2 separate regions of the Homo sapiens genome follow, and region 2 is linked to region 1. Evidence: fine-mapped expression QTL. Tissue or cell type: fibroblasts. Region 1 holds a variant in brackets; the other region holds the start of a gene. All regions are shown on one strand. Distances are between the middles of the regions.

Evidence for each region. PIP is the estimated chance that this variant, and not a neighbour inherited with it, causes the effect.
Region 2: ZFP91 starts here. The variant in region 1 is fine-mapped to the expression of ZFP91 in fibroblasts (GTEx, PIP 0.91).

The regions. Positions count from the first base shown.
Region 1 is chr11:58,150,713-58,153,479 of GRCh38, reverse strand. The region is part of intron 2 of OR9Q1 (olfactory receptor family 9 subfamily Q member 1); the gene reads right to left. Among named protein-coding and RNA genes, the nearest start is that of OR9I1, 27 kb to the right of the region's middle. The variant T/C (reference allele first, on the strand shown) is at 1,496.
Region 2 is chr11:58,577,904-58,580,518 of GRCh38, reverse strand. It overlaps ZFP91 (ZFP91 zinc finger protein, atypical E3 ubiquitin ligase), which reads right to left and starts at 1,456. Exons shown (of 11, transcript NM_053023.5): 1 at 897-1,456. The coding sequence starts at 1,237. ZFP91-CNTF (ZFP91-CNTF readthrough (NMD candidate)) reads right to left here and starts at 1,405. Exons shown (of 13, transcript NR_024091.1): 1 at 897-1,405. It also overlaps a transcript of LPXN not described here. RefSeq lists enhancers at 387-1,078, 1,823-2,052, 1,772-2,464, 2,083-2,602 and a silencer at 983-1,402.

The DNA.
Region 1 (2,767 bases):
TATTGAATTATCCTGAGTCCATATCACTCATTTGCTTGGCTCCTGATGTTTGAATCTTCCACAACAGTCCCCAAGAAACCATGTATCTACAATTGAGCACTCCCGGGGAAAGGGAACTCACCAACTCCAAAGACAACCCATCCCCTCTTTGAACAGTTTCTTCCAGAGCTCTTTCTTAAACTCTAAAAGCCAAGGCATCCATCTCCTTAACACTAAACAAAAGAAGAGATTTCTTCACTGAATTTTTTCCAAAGTAAGCATCCCCAGTGCCTCCTCTAATTTGGTTTCTGTTTCCTTCACCACCTTGGTTTTCATTTTCTGGGCATGCTTTATTCTATTTCTATTTCTTTTAGAGGATAAAATCCAGAAATAAAGGTTTCTTCCTGCTAGATTCAGCTCATCCCTCTATCTTCTAGAATGTTATCATGTACTAATTGAAGAAGAGCTTACTAAGTGCCTACCAGGTGGCAGGCTCTGTGCCAGGCACCAGCATCACTTTGGCAAGCAGCACAAGCTAAGTGCCCGCCCTCCTGGAGCTCGGATTCCAGAGGGAGACATGTTGCCCAGCAATCTCTCAGAGAGATGGAAACTTGCACTGTCATGCGTGCAAAATAAATTCAAGATTGATTCAAGATGTGAGACATAAAAAATGAAATTGTAGCAAATCTAAAAAAAAGGTAAATAATTTGATTATCTTGGAGACAAGGCCTTTCTAATATCAATAGAAAACCTAGAAGCTATAAAAGAAAAAAATGAATAAATCTAACTACATCAAATTTTAACATTTTTGGAGCCTAAAAGCATCATAAATGAACTCAAAAGGCAAATCTGTGAAAATATTTGCAATACAAATGACAGACAAAGGACTGATTTTCCTAATGTACAAGTTACTGTTACAAATCAATCAACAAAGCACATAAAAAATTTACAAAAGAAATATAAATGATGCAAACAAATGAGATGATTCTGAAGTTCTTTAATAATCAAAGAAATACAAACTAAAATAATGAGGTAATTTCCAAGTAAATATTGGCCATGAAATTTTAAAACAAATGCTCCCAAGTGCTGTCAGATCATAGGGTATCCAGCATTTTCATTCACTGCAAATTGAAACAGCCCTTCTGGAGAGAATTCCATTATTAGCTTATTTTAAATGTCCTGAATTTCATAAATATATACTAATATTATCTGTGAATTATAAATAAAGCTTTAAAATAAAATAAATGTTCTGATTCTGCCATTTCATTAGTTTCTATTCTTTATCCTCTCATCCCACCTATCCCTGAGTCACATAATGGCTTCCAGAACTAGCTGCCACCAGCACCTCCCCGGGTCCTCATACCAATCCTCTTGTAATACCAGTTACAGATTGAGTAGAATCACTACTCCATCTGTAATTTCTGGAACTCAGGACCGCTGTTCTCCTGGCCTGAGAGGATTTCCCCATGGCCTGTCAGAGCTCCTGGGAAATGCAACAATGGTCTGGTTAACTCAA[T/C]AATCTCTATGTCAAGGTTCCTTATAAACATGCAATCTGAACTGTCTTGGAGTGTCTTTCTACCCCAATTCCCTTACCTACAGTAGATTGTTGTAACTGGAAAAGAAATTTAAGTACCCAGAGCAACTGGAGAGACTGAGTAACTTCAGAACCAAGGCAGTTATTATTAAGCCTGGGGTAATTCTGTGTGCAAGGTTAAAAAAAAAAATGGTCTGGGGGCCGAAAACTAAGACATAAATTCCTAAATTCACTGGCTATATCATCTAGAAATGTCTTTTCTCAGTAAGGACTGGTTGTGTACACATACTTGTAATGAGCTAATACCTACTAGACCTATGTTTACCCAGCATTTTTAGTTCACATTCATCCAACGCTTGCACTCTAACATCTGTACAGCCCCACAAGCTTTCAACAGAGGAGTTTTACTTTATGTTGTTTGTATTATGAAACAAGAGTCATACTGAAGACAGTTTTTCAAACTGTCATTCCGTCTTCTGCAGATTTGGATTTGCCTTCCCTGAGGAACATCCCCTTCCCCAAGTAAACTATGAAAGCAAATGATGCAACACCACCTTCTCAAAAGCAACATTAAGACACAGTTGCTACTTAGCTGTGGTACCTGGGGCAGGGTACCTGGAATTATTTAACCATCCCAGGCTTCATTTGCCCCACTGGTAAAAAGGAACCAATAATAGATGAGAAAGAAGGCTGGGCCTGAAAATGAGTATGAGAGCTCTTTTCTCTTAATCCTGAGACTTTTTATATGACATCTCCTCTCATTGTATTAAGGATCTCAGTAAAAGTTAGTTGAGTGCCTTTTCAACAAACGATGCTAGGGAAACTGGATAACCCACGCAAAAGAATAAAGTTGGGTCCTTAACTTGCATGTGGCATACCCATACAAAAATGAACTAAAAATGGATAAAATACCTAAACATAAAGGCTAAAATGACAAAACTCTTAGAACAAAACACAGAGGAAAAGCTTCATGACATTGGATGTGGCAATGATTTTTTAGGTATCATACCAAAAGCACATTTTGTCTTACTAGAAGGTCTTCAGGGGCAATAACATACACGGAGCTATCATCTCCCACGATGATGATGCCTTCTTCTGGAATACCTCCTGAAGGACCTGCCTGGGGCTGTTTTAGAGTTAACTTGCTTTCTGTGAGTAGAAGGAATACACTCTAAAATAACAACACATTTGTATATTAACTACGTAAACTAGTAACATAGTCTTTTATTATAATTATCAAGTATTATGTACTCT
Region 2 (2,615 bases), 430 kb before region 1:
AATCAAAGGTCACTAATGATGTTTTCAGTCATGAATTGAATAGTCAATGTGATTAATTTCTAGAATTTACAAACTTGTGTGCTTCAGTATTCTTAACATGAGTATTATTTTAACGAACAATTTAAGACAATGCTCCTGGCCACCTGTTCATGTTTCCTCTATTACGTCTAGGTAATAAAGGAATTCCTCTCAGATGATTCTAATTTCAAGGATGAAGTTCCTACATTTAAAAACACGAAACACAAAGATAAAACATATGCTACTTAGTAAAAACAAACATTAAAGAATGCTCATATAATTTTATATGAAAGACTCCATACTTAAAATCGTAGCAGTGGGCTTTTAACCTGACCATAATAAGTGGCAAATTTCTCAAAAGAATGAGAAGGGTTGCGAAAAATTTAGAAAAGTGAAAAAAAAAAAAAGCTACATAAACACACTAGTACATCTGGCTCTTGAGCTAACGCGAAGGCGGGGGGGAATCATTTTTGAAGGCTATGATCGGGCTGTGTATTCCCTAAAGGGCATGTGATGTAATACTGGAGAGCCGCCTAAAGGAAAGGGATAGGGTGACAAAGGGGGTGCGGATGCCAGAAAGAGGGATGAGCCTGCGGGTGTCAGGGAGGAGGTGGATCACTAGCGAGTGCAGGGGTGTATCAAAAGATGATTTCGGGGAGTGGGGAAACGGCCCGACAAGCGAAGGTACAGGAGCGAGATGAGGGTGGCGCAGAGAGGAGGCACGAAGGCTCCCGGGGAAACGGTGTGACATCTGGCGTGCGGAGCCGGCAGGGGGCAGACCAGGCAGGATGTCACGTGGAGTAGGCGCTACGGGAGCCGAGAGGGTTGCGTACGGACAGAGGGGGGTCTTTCCCACCGCCTGAAAGACTGTTACTCACAGGAGTCGCGGACTCTTCTTGCCCTGAACTGGAGACGGGGACTTCGCGGCCTGGGGCTGCTGCCCGGGGACGTCGGGAGGCCTGGCGCTGGGGCTGCTCCTCCGCCGGCGGGGATACTCGGCCTTCCTCCGGCGGGACACAGCTGCGGCGGCGGCGGCCGCAGCGGCCCGGCCTCGGTCCCGACCTCCCCTCAGCACGCGGCTGCTAGTGGTCCCTGCAGGCGCCGCCGCGACCGCCTCAGGGGGCCGTTGTTGGGGCTCCTCCGGAGCCGCCTTGGCCGCCTCTCCCCCTTCCTGGTCCTGCTGCTCCGGGGGTCTCGGCTCTTCCGTCTCCCCCGGCATCGGGGCTTGTCCGTCCCCCACCCCCTAGTCCTAGGCGGCGGAGGCGGAGGCGGCGGCCTCGGCGCTGCTCCCCCCGCCCCCTCGCCTCCCGAAGCCTGCGGCTCACTCTCACCCTGCGCTCCTCTTTCCCCCCTCCCCTCCGCCCGGCTCCGAGGGCGCCCCCCCCACCCCCTGCCACTCAAGGTCCGCTACCGCTGGCGGCGCGCGCGCGCGCGCCACAGACGCTCAGCGGGCCAATCGGAAAAGAGGACAAGCCTCCTCACCCCGCCCCTCGCAGTCTTACACGCAGCGGCGCCCCAGGTTCCCTCCCCCACCCCTTCCTTCAGCCAATCAGGAAACGGCTAAAAGGGGAGCGCGCGAGGTTTCCTTCCCCGCGCACCCGTTCTCACCGTTAAACGGCTGTGTCTCGCGACAATCCCAAAGTGACCTTTTTCCCCCCTCCAGACTTCAACGCGCGCTAGGGGCAGTGCGAGGGGCAGGTCTCGCGAGGGAGGCGGGTGAGAAGAAATCGCACCTCTTTCCCCGCCTCACGCAAACCCTAGACTGGCTGCGCGCGCACCTGCCTCCCTGAGGAGCCACTGATACCACAAGGGCTCTTTCTATTCTTCTTTAGGCCGCAGAAGTAGCCTGGGCGTTCTTCCGCCTCCACCCTACCCCACTTTCCTGTCTTTGGCCTTTCTGTCCCCAGCGCCGCCAGATCTTGCGCGGAGAAGGGGGTAGTATTTTGAGCTGTCGCTTCTCCTTTAAGAAAAAAAGCCCCGTCGGTTGCCGGATGAAAGTCTCTGAAAAAATGGCGGCGGCAAAACGGAGGCGGGGTTGTGGGGGCAACGAGGGCCCGCCTCTTGGCGCATGCGCACCGTTAACTTAACCAAGGGCATTCTGGGAGATGAAGTCTTATTTCGCCTAGGCTTTAGGAAAAATAGATGGGAAACCAGAGGTGGAGAGGATGCCGGGAGGTTCTAACTGAGTCACGACGGGAAAGGTAGTTTACTTTCCGCAGTCTAGAGTTTACCTTTTTTTCGGGAGGCAGTGTTTCCGGGTTAGGTCGCGACGCGTGCCGTACATCCGGGCTCAAGCGTCGAGCCAATTGCTGGTCTGATGGGAGGGTTTTTCCTACTTTTTCTTACTTTTTATCTGGGCGTTGGCGTACCTTTCTCGGGGTGTCTGCGTAACTGCCCAGACTTGCCTTGGTTTGGTCAGATGACACCTCCTCTGGGACTGGCTAGCCAGCGTTCATGTCTACATTATTGATCTCGTCTTCCGGTGTGTGAGTCACTCACCTGTGAGCTCCTAGAGGTCAGCGACTAAATCTGGTTCCATGGGGTCCTTGGGCCCTCGGAGCCCTAGCACAAGGCCCACTACTCAGTTGGCTCTTAAT